4 linked regions of the Homo sapiens genome follow. The protein of the gene in region 1 interacts with the protein of each later gene in a pairwise test. Each region holds a gene or a part of one and is shown in the gene's direction. Other genes may lie near its edges.

Region 1 (3,945 bases):
GAGAGAGGGATCTCTGGTACATCTTCCTTTTCTTATAAGGACATCAGTTCCATTGGATTAAGGCCCCACCCTAATGTATCCTCTTAATCTTTATTACCTATTTATAGAACCTATCTCCAAATATTATCACACTGGGGATAAGACTTCTAAAGACAAATATTGGGGGGTACACAATTCAGTCCATAACAGTTGGGTAGGATTTTCCAGGGATAGCAAGAATAAGAGGTAACAGGTGGGTTCTATGGGAGAAAGTGGAATAATAAAAATTACGAGTTGTGTACTTAATTTCTTAGTTGTAATATGCCCTCTTTTGTCGATACAGTGAAGGGACACTTTTTAAAAATCCAAGCTTTTGGGTAGGAGGATGAAAATCAATTTGTCTTATGATTCTTTGATAATTCCCTTAATATCAACTTCTTGCTTTCCTCCTGTCCCTTTCCAGGAAGTTTCTAAATGACAGCCCTGCTTTCCAAGATACCCCTTGCAATCTAGAGTGCTACCCATGACCTTGAAAAACCTGAAAACAATGACCCTTGTACTTTCTAATCTCCTTTATTACATTTCTGATAGTAGCTTGTGTTCTGGCTCTCCAGGTCTGAGATCTGTTCTCAGTTATTTCCCTGCTTAAGGTGATGTGGCTACCTTTACAGGACATCCACCATAGCGCATGTTTTCTCTTCTGCACCATCCCCATCTGACTCTGCTCCCACATGGTCTCCAGAGAAGTCTCTGCTGCCCTCAGACATTTATTGCACCTCTTACATATCCGTCAAGTTTCTATAAGTCTAAGCCTCTTTATTGTGTTGACAGGTTTGCAGCTACCAGTGATTTTATTTTTTTCTCATTTTTGATCTTTGGAGGTTGGCTTGAGAGAGTGAGATTTAGTCTGTGTTCACGTTCTAAACTATGCAATTTTCAAAGGATACTATTTTATAGCCATAGTCATCTATTTTTGTATTGATTACAAAAAATTACTTTAAGAGACTGATTTATTTGGATATTACAAAACAGACATCTAAATAAGTCTAGCAAATAAATTCAATGTAATTTAAGACTGAAAGATAAACACATTCAAATCTTGAGGGATACTGCAAAGCTTAAAAATAGGTATAACATCAATACATATGTAAGGAAATAGTTGTGTCTGGCATTAGACAATGGCTCTCATATCTCAATTACAGGGAGTGTAGTTGAACCCAGCTGCTACCTTCTGAATATTTGCAAATCAATTACTGGAACATTCACATTGGTTTTAGGTGACTCTTCACTGGCCTGCCAAGTGGCATATAGTGCATTCTTTTGGGAGTTTTCTCCATTGACTAGGTCCATTTAAAAAGTGATTGTCATCTTGGTACAACTTGAGGAAAAAGTAAATACACTATTTTGTATCTGAAGTGGCTGTTGATGTTTTCTTCTTTAGGAAATAAATTTATGACTTTAGACATTTTTGAGTTGAATTTGGAAGTTAATAAATATTTTCTCTAAATGATTTCAGTTCTCCCTCATAACACTAGGTTGTAGGAAAGAGTTTTCTTATGTTATAAAAAAGAAAAATTGAGGCAATCAGTCTAAAAGGAGAATTGGGACTCATCTGTAGGTTATTTTATTAAAAATCCTCTCTGCCTCACTGTGTTCACTACTATAAAATGTAAAACAGCTCTGGCAATAGCAGTAAGAGTTCAGAGCCAATGTACGGAGAAGTCCTTTTCATGTTATGTTATGGTAAGTCTAGTAACTGGATTCTTTTAGAGTGCTGTCTTAATTTTGCTTTGTGTGTAATCATTGTCATTGAAATACAGAAGGGCTTTTTCCTGGAGACTGTCATTATCTGCTTTCTCTTTCACTTAACAGTTATTTATGGAGCACACATACAGTGTGTGTCTGGTGCTGGGCTTATGAGCAAAATGACACAGTCCTGGTTTCATAAAGCTTACATTCCAGTTGTTGTTAATGATTACAATTGTCAGTATCTTTTCAACAATATCAAGCCATGGCAGTTGAAGAATGAGTAAATAGCTATGTTTAGAAAATGATCCAATGTTTTATCCTTCGGAATAATCACAATATTACAGTTTTTACAAGCAACTCAACTGATTCTGATATTCATACTTATTTTTCAGAACCAGTCCGTGTTTGTCCAGTTTCCTTTTATACCATGTTCTCCCCAAATCCTAACATTCCATAACTGCACAGACTCTTCTTGGTCTTGCACTGTTCAAACATTTTTCTTGCTTTCTGTGCTTGGTACACTCTGGGTCTGGCTGTGCTTTTCTGCCTTATTAAACTTCAATTTGCAGCTTAAATATCAATCATTTCCTCAAACAACCTTCTCCTTTTACCTGATTTATTGCAGGCCTTTCTATGACACTCAATTTTTTTTCCTTTGTAAAAAGATGCCCAATGTTACTCATATTCTATTTGTATTTTTAAAGTCATATATTCAGTTCCTCTTTGTTTCTTGATACATAAATAAGCTCAATAAATATTCATTCAGTAAGTGTAGTATTGGATATTTATGTACTTTTTCTCGACGTTTAATAAGAAATTGATGTCATTAAGTGAACAAATATTTTAGTGCTTACTGTACAAAGAATGTACTTTTACATTAAAATTTTCAGAAAACAGGTTTCAGTAATTTCTGCATTATCTGAAATTCATTTAATGCTAGAACACGCTATTGGTTAAAATTCACAGTTGAGTTAGAATTAAAATATTTTAGGAGTTTCTCTTCATCATCAGAAGCAAAGCAATGGAATTCTATTTCCATTTGATAAAATTATTGTAATTTTTATGATAAACTCTGAGAGCTTAAAATATTACCTGACTTTTTATTTATCATTTTAAGGTACATGCAATTAAATGCTTTTTAAGTTAGTGAATTTTCATATGATTCTTGGAAAAGAATGATGTGATAAGAAACAGTTTTACAAAATAAAAACTAAAACTTCTTATAATTTTATAAGACTTTTACTTTTTAATATATGTTATACACATATATTTATCAAATAATTTGTATGTTTTGATAAATCTGCCAATAGTAAAACATCAGAAGGCATTATTTAAGCTTTGTTGTTGCTACTGCTAAAATCATTACTTAAAAAAAATCTTAAGAGTTAAAATTTATTCATTCAGACCATGTATTACTTATTTAAAACCTTGGTTCTACTTGTTATCTGTTATTTAATGTTAAATCAATTTATTTAATTTTAACATTTAAAAGAATACTGCAAGTTCACAAAGACTTGACACAGCATATTTGTCCTTGCCCAAAAATACATTTGCTCTCCTTATATTAATTTTTCATTGCTAAGTTGCTGCCTTCTTGTGGCAACTTTATCATTTTTATTCTGATAAGTGAGGCAATGATAGAAACTTTAAGTATTAATCTTAACAATGAAAGTAATGGCAGGTACTAAATTAAATTGTGATATAATATTTTCACCTCATATTCCCAAACAAGCATCCCAAATGTCAAACTACATCATCTAAAATTTGACCCTTAGTTTATTATATATAATTGGTAAATGAGGTCTAGTGCCAAGAATGTAATTTTGGTTTCCTACATTTTGGAAGCCAGAACATCTCTTAGATTTGGGAACAGAACATTTTCTACAATAATGGTACAATTATATATATATGAAAAAGCAGTTTTTAGGCTTTTATATCATAATTTATTATGATACTATAAAGGATATTGTTGAAATGTAACATTTTTCTAAATGTTGACTAAGTTGTTGGGCTTTTAGAATTTAGCATGTCATAGCAACAGATTTTATAACAGTATAATAATTATAAAGTATGTTGCAATGAAGCCATTATAATCAACAATGTTAAAACAAGTAATTTAGAATTTTTATCCTTTTGAGATATTTTTAAAATGCCTCATACTCTAATCATCCTAAATAGTTTGCAAGGAATTTTGAGTAGTTGACCCTCTTCTGTCCC
Region 2 (3,945 bases), on another chromosome or scaffold:
AATAAGATGCAGTCTGTACTTCAGGGAGTTTACAGTCCAGTGGGGGTGATAATTACAATGCAGAACAACAATTGTTACAGTATAGTATTCCGAAAATGCATGCCAAAAAAACTACTTGGAGGTGAGCAGAAAGGGAAGATACTCTGGTTGATTTCTAATGGATGAATGGGAGTGAGCTGATTGTGAAGGATGAAAGAAAGGTGGCCAGGCAAAGGGCGGGAGAAGGCTGGTGGAAGAAAGGGGCATTCCAGACTAGAGGGAGCAGTAATTGAAGAGTCCTGAGAGAAATGTAGGAGAGAGAGAGACTAAAGGGTAAACTGGGGTCAAATCTGATGAAGGGCCTTTATTGGGGATTTAGGCATATCTAAGAGTAGATAACCATGCTTAGTCTTGTCCATTAGAAACAGTACAACTTAGCTCTGTAACTGAGTAGTTGTGGTTATCAGGCTGTTCCAAAACAGTGAGATGCACTTTGATAAGCTATGATGCCTATTTTTTCACATATAGGATAGACAAAAACTAAAACATGTTATAAATTATAGAAGCAGCTGATACACAAGATGTTAGGTGCAAGAATAAGATCCATACTTGTTAAAGAAAATAAAAGGATAGAGTTATGCCAGGGGATTTGAGTAGAGAGAGGGTTGAGGAAGAAAATTTCTTTGTCATTCAATCGAGAGAGACTTTAAGAGATCTTTGGAGAGGAAAAAAAAAATGAGGTTAGTGAATCTTATAGGAAATATGTACCAAACTTAAAAGGGGCATGTTAACTGGTGAATAAATATCCAGGTAAAAAAGAAGAGTGATTATATTAAAGAGAGGAGACTTCCAGGTGGCCTGTGTTGATGCAAGAATATCTTGTGGCAAAGAGTTGCTTGGAAGCTTTTTCTTAATAGGGAGATGTGAAGGAATTTATTCCAGAGCAAAGAGGAGATGTAACATGATTAGAGCAATGGAAAGGGTGACAGGGCAGTAATACCTAGAATTCATTTTGGAGAAATAGCGCTGTTGTCTGATCTGCAAAGAAGAGTTTTCCAAAAAATTGAGACTGGGAATGGCTACAACCTGGAATGAGGATTTGATGATGCTGTTCTTCCTCCCTCTTCCTCCTCCTTCAAATTCTCTTTATAAAGATCACTGAAGAGAAAGGGAGTAAAGGTTATTCTGAGGTTTATAAATGGAGGAAGGGAGGGAGTAATTATCATCACTGATAGAAATTTGGAGCTTGGGTAGGGGATGCATTTTGTAGCAAAAACTAGGAAGTACATATTGAAAGGGAAACATTTCCTTTTATTTGTTCTGGAATGTGCTTTTTTTTTTTAAAAAAAAAAAAAAAAAAAAAGAGGGTCTGGCTCTGTCGCCAAGGGTGGAGTGCAGTGGCCCAATCTCGGCTCACTATAACCTTCGCCTCCTCCCAGGCTCAAGCCGTCCTTCCATCTCAGCCTCTTGAGTAGCTGGGACTACAGGCACATGCCACCACACCTGGCTAATTTTTGTGTTTTTTGTAGAGACGGGGTTTTGCCATGTTGCCCAGGCTGGTTTCAAACTGCTAGCTCAAGTTATCCTCCTGCCTTGGCCTCTAAAAGTGTTGGGATTAGGGGCATGAGTCACCATGCCCGGTCCTGGAATGTGCATTTTAATGCTAGACCTTTTCATGTAAGGCATTGATTCTTAAAAACTTTTCCTGTTTTCAAAGATAACTTATAGAAAAGTGTGCAAAACAGAAATGTTCTGTTTAATGAATAATTACAAAACAAATGCTCAGGTAACTGCAATCCAGGTCAACTCATTTTCTTGCTGCTGTATACCTCAAGGGTGTGACATTTTCATTAGTAACAGTAATTAATTATTTTAAAAACCTTAACATTTATTGTTTACAGTATATCAGTGCTAAGTACTTTATATAGATTATCTATTTAATCTTCACAACAGTCCTATATCAAGTAAGTACTATTATTATCCCCATTTACTGCTGAGGCAACTTGAGGCCTACAACCCTTAAGTAAGTGGCCTTAAGTCTTCCATCGGGTGTTAAGTGGCAAAGCCTGGACTTACAATATATCAAAGCTTTATGCTAAGCGGCTGGGCGCAATGGCTAACGCCTGTAATCCCAGCACTTTGGGAGGCCGAGGCAGGTGGATCACCCGAGGTCAGGAGTTCGAGACCAGCCTGGCCAACATGGTGAAACCCCGTCTCTACTAAAAATACAAAAATTAGCCGGGCATGGTGGCGCGTGCCTGTAGTCCCAGCTACACGGGAGGCTGAGGCAGGAGAATGGCGTGAACCCGGGAGGCGGAGCTTGCAGTGAGTCAAGATCGCACCACTGCACTCCAGCCTGGGCGACAGAGCGAAACTCCGTCTCAAAAAAAAAAAAAAAATACAAAAATTAGCCGGTCCTGGTGGCTCATGCCTGTAATCCCAGCTACAAGGGAGGCTGAGGCGAGAGAATCACTTGAACCGGGGAGGCAGAGGTTACAATGAGCTGTGGTCATGCCACTGCACTCAAGTCTGGGCGACAGAGTGAAACTCTGTCTCAAAAACAAACAAATAAAGCTTGATGCTAAAGCTAGAACTCTTGCTTACTGTGCTGTACTCCACCGAAGGGAGTCTAAGACTTGACATGTACAAACCACGCCTGAAAGTTAGTGAATGGGGAAAATATTGAAGAAATATCGACTATATCACAGAAATTGCTATTTCTATACTTTAAAACCTTGCAAATTTTTGATGAACTTTACTATTAGATTTATTTGCCTTTTTATCTTTTTACTCTTGCAAAGTTTCCTTCTTATCAGCAAGGAGCCAGTTGGTTGGTTTTACCAAAAAATGATAATCCGTATCTTTGGGCTTAACACTTAAGCTTTATGCTTTAGTTTCTGATACCAGGGCTAATATATATTTTCTCACCTGCAAAATTCAGTTAGCTCTACCAGACTTGCTTCTGTCTCTGGAACCTCCAGTGCTAAGTGGCACTATCTGATTGTCCAAGTTTAAGATTCTATCCTTGACTCCCTTCTCTTCCCCTCCTTCACCCTTCTTTGTATTAGTTATCTGAAGAACCCTCATGTTTGTACCTGTTACCAACCTTACTTCCTCTGCCCCTAGTTTAGACCCTTATCTTTGTTGCCTGAACAAGTATAATAGTGTACCTAGCTCTTCTGTGTTCAGTATCTTCTCTCCCCAGTGTATCTTGTGGATTGATCTTTCTCATATCTTTCTGTGTTACTTTCCTGTTTATGATCCTTCCCATTGACTTCAGGATAAAAGTCCTTAGCATGCCACACATAGTTGTAAGACCTTACCTTTTTTACCTCACCTTGCACTTTTCCTTATATCTCCTTTGTGCCAGCTGTGATAAAGTACTGGAGATGCTTGAGTAACCAGTAGTTTCTTCTTCATGCCTTTGTATATGCTGTTCTGTGTGCCTTCTTTTGACTATCTGTTGAGTTGGGGTTCACTCTGGCAACCTATCTCTTCAGTGAGACTCCTTCATATATCTCTGGAACACCAAGATTACAATTCTGCCACACCATGTCATTCTAGTTAAAAACCAAAAACAAAAAAAAACTTTAAAAGTTCTCCATGAGCCTTTCCTGACTTACAGTATACTTGGTACTATCAGTCCCTATTCTTTTCCTCCTCTCTAGTGTTTTCCTAGGTGAATTTTCCTTCACCTATTTGGGATAAATTGCTGTGATGTACAACAAATTCTGTGTTTGTATAGCTATTAAAGTATTTGGGCTCTGTTGAGAAGCTCAGTGAGAATAGATACCTTGGATGTAACTTGAAACATGAAACTTAATGAGAAGAGAGACTAGATGATATACCTGAAAAAAGTCTACATTTGGGAATGAAAGGTTCAGTATTATTCTAAGACATTAATTTTCTTTTGGTGTTGACTCCATGGCATTGATACTGTTGCCTAGCCCTCCTTGAACAGCCTGT
Region 3 (3,945 bases), on another chromosome or scaffold:
AGGAGATCGAGACCATCCTGGCCAACATAGTGAAACCCCGTCTCCACCAAAAATACAAAAATTAGCCAGGTGTGGTGGTGTGCGCCTGTAATCCCAGCTAGTCGGGAGGCTGAGGCAGGAGAATCACTTGAACCCGGGAGGTGGAGGTTGCAGTGAGCTGAGATCACACCACTGGACTCCAGCCTGGCAACAGAGCAAGACTCCATCTCAGAAAGAAAAGAAAACAAAAAAGTTGTGTTTACACTATGCTGTAGTCTATTAAGTGTGCAATAGCATTATGCCTAAAAAACAATATATCTAACTTAATTTAAAATACTTTATTACTAAAAAAAAAACCTTAATGATGATCTGAGCCTTCAGCAAGTTGTAATCTTCTTGCTGGTGGTGGGTCTTGCCTCAATATTGATGGCTTGTTGCTTCACCTTGCATTTTTATGTTATAGAGACAGCTTCTCTTCTTAAACCTCAGACTATCTCTGCCAGCTTCAAACTTTTTTTCTGCAGCTTCCTCATCTCTCTCAGCCTTCATAGAATTAAAGAAAGTTAGGATCTTGATCTTGATTAGGCTTTGGCTTGAGGGTCTGTTGTGTCTGGTTTGATCTTCTACACAAACCAGTCAAACTTTCTCCATATCGGCAATAAGGCTGATTCACTTACTTATCATTTATGTATTCACTGCAGTAGCACTTCTGATTTCCTTCATGAACTTTTCTTTTGCATTCACAGCTTGACTGTTTGTCACAAGAGGCCTAGCTTTTGGCCTATCTCAGCTTTAGTCATGCCTTCCTCATTAAGATTAATCATTTCTAGCTTTTGATTTAAAGTGAGAGATGTGAAACTCTTCCTTTCACTTGAAAATTTGTAGGCAATTGTAGGGTCATTAATTGGCCTCATTTTAATATTTTTGTGTCTCAGAGAATAGGGAGGCCCAAGGAGAGGGAGAGAGATGGGAAAATGACCAGTTTGTGGAGCAGTCAGAACACAAACATTTATCGACGAAGTTTGCTGTCTTGTATGGGCAAAGTTTGTGGCGCCCCCCGAGACATTACAATAGTAACCTCAAAGATCACTGATTACAGATCACCATAGCAGATATAATAATAATGAAAGTTTAAAATATTTAAAGTTAATAACAGTTACCAGAATGTGACACAGAGACACAAAGTGAGCACATGGTGTTGGAAGAATGGCGCTGATAGACCTATTTAACACAGGTTGCCATAAACCTTTGATTTGTAAAAAACTCAGTATTTGCAAAGCATGTTAAAGCAAAGTACAATAAAAGGGGGAATGCTTGTATCTTCTGTTCCTCTAGACTCTAAGCTAAGTACATATCTTATTGGTCTGTGCCATTGCAGGTGCCTCGAGCAAAGGCCTTATGCAACTACAGAGGGCAGAATCCCGGTGACCTAAGGTTTAATAAGGGAGATATCATCCTTCTCCGGAGACAGCTTGATGAGAATTGGTACCAGGGGGAAATCAATGGCATCAGCGGGAACTTCCCAGCCAGCTCCGTGGAAGTCATCAAGCAGCTGCCCCAGCCGCCCCCGCTCTGCAGGGCCCTCTACAACTTCGACCTACGAGGCAAGGACAAGAGTGAGAACCAGGATTGCCTGACCTTCCTCAAGGTAGGATTCTGGGTGGCCACCAGAGTCACCTGGGACCACGTAGAGACCATAGCAGAACAGAGTTCCTTGTTTAATATTTGCTGATTTTAAAAAATTGTATTTTAAATATATTATATTATTGTTAATATTTTATTCATAAAAATATATTTTGTGCATAAATTACGTATGTATATATGTAGTGCATATATATGTAATATGTGTGTACAATTCAAACTACATGCACGTGAAATCTCTAGAGAAATCTACGAATAAGTGATAGAAGTCTGTAAGCCTTTTTTATTGTAATTACAAAAGTATTCACTCATTCATTCATTCATTTATCCTGAAACCATTGTAGAAACATTTGAAAATACAGATAAGCAAAACAAGGAAAATATTACACCACAATATAGATACAATCACTGTCAACAGCTTGAATAACACATTTGATTTATTCATTCTATCACTTTTGAGCATTTACTCCTTGAAGGCCCTGGGAATAGGACGTGAATAAGTCACAGTCTCTGCTCTCCTGGCAGAGTAATGGGAAGCACCGATACATGGACAGAAAATTAGAAACAATTTGATAACATGCTATGTAAAACTACAGCCTCTACCTCTTTATCATGTATGTGGCAGGGTATTCTTGCAACCAAGTTATGGTTACCTAATTCTACTCATTTACATTCTATCTTGTTGTAAACATCTCATTCAAAACACTCCAGACACACACAATAACATAATCGTGCCTTTCTACATAAATAACCTCTTACAAGATATATTTTTCAAACATTAATTACCCTAAGATTTCTTGTGCCTCTCTTTTTCATTAGATGATTCCCCACCATTTGCAATTAATGACAGTTGTACTAAAGTCTACACTACTTTAACTATCTGTATTCAGTATTTGTTATTCCATAAACATTCACATCTCTCATAGAAACCACAGTTGGAGTTATTTTCATTCTTGACTACTCGTGATAAGTAGATCAAATGTAAGTATAAAAAGTGGCACTGCTACAATAGCTTAGGCAAGGTGTTTCGTTTTACAAAATGTTTTTATTCCACCACTACCAGAAAGGAGATTTACTTCAGGTTTTCTCAAACTAGACAACCTCTCTGCCCTCCATATTTTGAGATAATGATCTTTATTATTGCCGTGGAACCTCAGAGCGAGACTCCTAAGGAAGGTCATTCTACAGCCCAAACAGCAAAGTGTAGACCTAGACTACAGCTAGAGGAAAGTCAGTTCAATTCCACAAATATTTATTATTTACTTTGTGCCAGGCATTAGACACACAGCTGGAGGAAGACATAAGGAAGTATCATCGTCTGCCTCTCTCACCCTTTCTGGGAATTTGTAAACTGGGGCACTTACTTCACACACTCATTCATTTCTTGAGCCCATCCATGTGCCAAGCTGGCCATTGGAGATAAAGTGATGAGTCATTGTTCTTACCTACACTGAGCTGGCAATCTAGTGGAAGAAACAGACATATAAATGGGAAATTATGACAAAGAAACCAAAAGAGAGGATTTGACCCATTCTGGAAGGCTGTGAAATACACAGACTTCTAGGAAATCTCATGGTCTAAACTCAGCATATCCAAATTAAACTCAAGATCTTCCTTCCCAAAGCTGTTCTTTTCCTAGTGCTTTCTAGCTCAGTAAATTGTGTAATTTATTCAACGTCATGTATTTATTCATGCATGCATGCATTCAATAAACTTATTGGCTGACTACTAAAAGGGAGCCACTGTGTTAGGTGCTAGGGAAAACAAAGATTAACAAAACAGACATAGGCCCTGCACACATGAAGTTTATAGTCAGATAGGGTAGACCGACATTAAAGAAATAATAACCTCCTGGCACGGTGGCTCACGCCTGCAATCCCAGCACTTTGGGAGACCGCGGCAGGCGGATCACTTGAGGTCAGGAGTTTGAGACCAGCCTGGCCAACATAGCGAAACCCCGACTCTACTAAAAATACAAAAATTAGTCAGGCGTGGTTGCGCGTGCCTGTAATCCCAGCTACTCAGGAGACTGAGGCAGGAGAATCGCTTGAACCCAGGAGGCGGAGGTTGCAGTGAGCCAAGTTCGCGCCATTGCACTCCAGCCTGGGCAACAGAGCGAGACTCCATCTAAAAATTAAAAAAGAAAGAAAAGGAAGGAAGGAAGGAAGGAAGGAAGGAAGGAAGGAAGGAAGGAAGGAAGGAAGGAAGGAAGGAAGGATAACCTATAAATGCATAATTGCACATGTGTAAGAGCAGGGGCCCCCAACCCCAGGACCACCGACCAGTACCAGTCCGTGGCCTGTGAGGAAACGGGCCGCACAGCAG
Region 4 (3,945 bases), on another chromosome or scaffold:
TGCAGGATGTGTGGGTTCGTTACACAGGTAAACATGTGTCATGGAGGTTTGTTGTATCAATTATTTCATCACTCAGGTATGAGAGACGTACCCATTAGTTATTTTTCCTGATCCTCTCCCTCCTCCCACCCTCCACCTTCTGATAGGCAAAATGCCATTTTGCTTTTACTGATTGAATTTATTTTACTTCCAAGTAAGATTTGGTTAGGACAAAGGATTCAACCAAATAATATTAATTAAATATTATTTTAATTACTTATTATTAATAATAAACATCAAGAGGAAACTCACTGATTTAACCCCTAATTTTGCAGAGAGGAAAACCAACCCAGAGAGGGGAAAGACAGACTAGGGTGAACACGGGATTTGCCCTGCCTTGCGGCTTATTCTCTCCCACTCAAGGCCTCCCACTGCCCCACCCTGGAGGTGCCAGTTGCATTGCCATCTGTGGATGGAGTTGTGCCATGTGGCAGCTACCCGTTTTCCAGCATCCACTCTGCTCATTCACTTTCTAGGCCTTCCTCTCTCTGAGCCCTTCAATGACCACCCTTATTCCACAGGATAAAGTCTAAACTCAGCCTGTCCTTCAAGGCCCTCATGAGTGAGCTACACTCTCACTTATTTTTTTTTTTTTTTTTTTGAGAAGGAGACTCATTCTGTTACCCAGGCTGGAGTGCAGTGGTGCGATCTCGGCTCACTGTAACCTCCGCCTCCTGGGTTCAAGCAATTCTTCTGCCTCAGCCTCCTGAGTAGCTGGGACTATAGGCGTGCACCACCATGCTGGCTAATTTTTGTATCATTAGTAGAGACGGGGTTTGACCATATTGGCCAGGCTGGTCTTGAACTCCTTACCTCATGAACTGCCCGCCTTGGCCTCCCAAAGTGCTGGGATTACAGGCATGAGCCACTGCGCCCAGCTGCTCTCACTTTCCAAACATATTTCCTATGGACTCCATTCTGTTCTCCACTGGGATTGGCAAGCTTTATCTGGAAAGGGCCAGATAGCTTTGTAGCTCACATAAGGTTTCTGTTGCAAATTCTTAAAAAAAAAAAAAAAAAAAAAGCTTACAATTCTTTAAGCAAAAACAGGCTGGGAGCCAGGTCAGGCTTATGGGCTGTAGTTAGCTGACCCCTGCCCTGCAACCCTGTCCCATCTTGACCTGCTGGAATCCAATGTGTCTGATTTCTTCCTTTTGTGTTCTGACTCTGTCTCCTAGGCTGGGCTCCCAAGGCCCAGCTGGGCAGGGGCAGGGGTTTCCACTTTCCCTTATGAATGATTCCTCTGTGCCCCCTAGGTGCTGTCTCACTGCCACCATGCCGGAAGTGTAAGTAGTCTCACTGCCATCTGGGGCCCCAGGAAGGCAAGTCCCTTTGCCACAGACTTCAGCCCCGCAGTGGAGGCACCATGTTTTCAACCCCCAAAGCTTTTCCCTAAGAGACCAGGTCCTCAAACAGGGGCAGCACTTGATGGTTTCCCCTGTGCTGCCTGTGTCCTCCCAGCCATTGAGCAGAACTCACTCCCAGGTTGCCCTGGGAGTGCCTTTTTGGCTTGTGCCTCAGAGATTTCCTGTCTTGATCTATCACATGAATTGCATGTACCAGGCCACCACTTAACACTGGTGCAGTAGGTGAACAAAGCTTTGGGAATTTACCCACGCACCCGTGGATGGATGCTTTCACGTTGCTGGAACCCTACGCTAAGGCTTCCCTCCCCTTCCACCACTTGTCCCCAACTTACGATGCCCAGTACCTCCCAATAAGAATGCCCCGTAGTTCAAAGGGCTGTTGAATTTTTATTTTATTCTGCCGGAACCTCAAACCGCTCCCCTTGCCTGATGCCTGATGACTTTCTGGCTCACTGTTGTCACTGGCCCCCTCCTCCCCCAAGCTGGTCTGTGAGGTTCTGCGACTGCACATGTAATCCTCATTGTTCATACTCACTCTGTGTTCTGCTCTTTCCCCGTCCTTCCTGTGATGGATGCCTGAAGCGAGGTAAGTGATATTTGGGGTATCTCTGTCTTGGTTAACTCTAACGACTGGTAAAAGTGGGAAGGTGGGGTTGGCATCTGAGGAGAGGGAAGAGCCTGTGTTAAGGCCTGGTGGGAGTCCAGGGGGTGTAGGGTATTTAGTGGCTGAACAAATTCCCAGGAGATGGAAACGTCAGGTGAAGATTCTGGATGTGGGGCTTCCTAGTGTCCAGGGAGTTGCTGTGCCAGTGTACCATGTCACTGGAAGGACTGGTATTGCAGCAGGGTTGGGTGTGACTCTGCATCCTTGCTGAGCACAAGCTCTTCCTCACCCACTCTGAGAGCTGGTCCAGTCCTGGGGGGACCATCCTATTCCATGCAGAGCTGATCCTGTGCAAAGCTATATTGGAAGGGTAAGGGATAGTCATTGGGTTATTCCACCCTTGCCCAATGGCTGAACATTGATTGAGGAGCAAAGAGATGTCCTTAAATCCCTCAGGTGTTAGAAAACCCTGACACTGGCCATTCTATACACTCCAGACTTACCAGGCTACTGAGATCACAGCCTATGTACAGTCCAAGGATGGGGATGGCAGGGATAGGGATGTGGGCCCAGGGATGGAAACAGTGAGAATTAGCAGTATTGATGGAGGGGATATTTGGCACAGAGATTCTCAGTAAGAATTGAACATGTTACTTTTCAACATTCATATGAATTTTTAAGTTTTGCTGAGGCTCGTATTAAAGTGAGTCCTCACTGACTGATGGTCAAATGAGGTGGCCATCGGCTCACCAAGTGGTGGGGAAATAAGATCGCAGTCAAACATTTGCCATGTGTACATTACAGTGTGTAAACCATGGTAGTAATGCTTAGAGTCATAGGCTCTTTCTTTTGAAATTGCACTTATCTGAAATGTAACAAAAATCTTTAGGAGAGGAAAAGACAAACCAACCACTCTGAACAGTCAGAATAGAAGTTACACATTCCATTTGCTGAAACTCATCCATTGTCTCTCATGAGAACTTCCCTCTCAAAGCCTAATCACTTCTACTTGACACCCTGGAATAACATTTGAGAGCCATGCTCTGCCGGCTCACAGCACATTAAGTCTAGGTAGGATGCTTCCTGCTGGCAATGAGAAGTGACCGCCTATGGCCCAGAAGATACTCTAGTGCTCGAAAGGCATCACAGTCTCATTAGTTGGGGACCAAGCAGCCCTACTACTCACCTTTGCCAACCCTGAGGGACCACTGTCACAGGGCTAGGACTAGTAAGCAAGAACATGTTTAGGATTTTTGATAAGAAGATAAAACAGTGGTTTTATATCTTAGAAAGATTTGTATGGGTGGTGTTAACATTTTTAAAAGTTTTGAGGTCTACATAGATACGTTTCATTTATTTGGGAAATTCACAGCTTATTTATGCAGCATGACGGATCATCAAGGTATTGCTGTATTACTACCTGGAGTGTGAAAACACATAGCTTTTACGATTTTCAAAGGATTTGCACATCCATGATCTCATTTCATCTGCAATAACTCTGTGAACTAAGTAAGGGGGGGGGTCCTAATATCCTTATTTACAGATGAGGAAGGAGGTGCCTGTAGAAGCCATGTGGCCCTCATAGTATCTTACAAGATTTCAGCAGCAGCAGAATCAGAGTGGGAAGTTAAGGCTTCAGCCCCTAGGTCAAGGTAGCTGACTGCAGCCTTCTCTGAACTGCAGAGGTTAAATAACAAAGATGAGCTTTTAAGGCACCGTAGGGTGAGCAGAGGATTCCGGATAAAGATAGAGAACGCTGGCTGGCACTTGTCTTGTCCTAGACCAGAATTCCAGTTCTGCAGCCTCTGCCTCACCACCTGTCTCTCTCTCTTCTTGCCCACAGAGAAAACCCAAGATCACTGCCTCCCGCAAACTCTTGCTGAAGGTGAGGCTGGGGGCTGGCTGTGGGGGGATGCCCAGTGGGAGGCAGAGGGG

What was found. Proteins that work in one complex are often made in the same cells at the same time.
Region 2: the proteins of CCDC102B (region 1) and KPNA3 interact in binary tests that used the Homo sapiens proteins (3 or more experiments, as listed by UniProt).
Region 3: the proteins of CCDC102B (region 1) and SH3RF2 interact in binary tests that used the Homo sapiens proteins (3 or more experiments, as listed by UniProt).
Region 4: the proteins of CCDC102B (region 1) and TNNI1 interact in binary tests that used the Homo sapiens proteins (3 or more experiments, as listed by UniProt).

The regions. Positions count from the first base shown.
Region 1 is NC_000018.10:68,891,732-68,895,676, forward strand, and holds part of CCDC102B (coiled-coil domain-containing protein 102B), read left to right. Parts: intron 1-3,945. UniProt on the Homo sapiens protein: During interphase, forms fibers at the proximal ends of centrioles to maintain centrosome cohesion. During mitosis, dissociates from the centrosome following phosphorylation to allow centrosome separation. Contributes to CROCC/rootletin filament formation.
Region 2 is NC_000013.11:49,786,115-49,790,059, reverse strand, and holds part of KPNA3 (importin subunit alpha-4), read left to right. Parts: intron 1-3,945. UniProt on the Homo sapiens protein: Functions in nuclear protein import as an adapter protein for nuclear receptor KPNB1. Binds specifically and directly to substrates containing either a simple or bipartite NLS motif.
Region 3 is NC_000005.10:145,998,701-146,002,645, forward strand, and holds part of SH3RF2 (E3 ubiquitin-protein ligase SH3RF2), read left to right. Parts: intron 1-1,357; coding exon 1,358-1,627; intron 1,628-3,945. UniProt on the Homo sapiens protein: Has E3 ubiquitin-protein ligase activity. Acts as an anti-apoptotic regulator of the JNK pathway by ubiquitinating and promoting the degradation of SH3RF1, a scaffold protein that is required for pro-apoptotic JNK activation.
Region 4 is NC_000001.11:201,415,163-201,419,107, reverse strand, and holds part of TNNI1 (troponin I, slow skeletal muscle), read left to right. Parts: intron 1-1,295; 5' UTR 1,296-1,314; coding exon 1,315-1,325; intron 1,326-1,988; coding exon 1,989-1,992; intron 1,993-3,853; coding exon 3,854-3,895; intron 3,896-3,945. UniProt on the Homo sapiens protein: Troponin I is the inhibitory subunit of troponin, the thin filament regulatory complex which confers calcium-sensitivity to striated muscle actomyosin ATPase activity.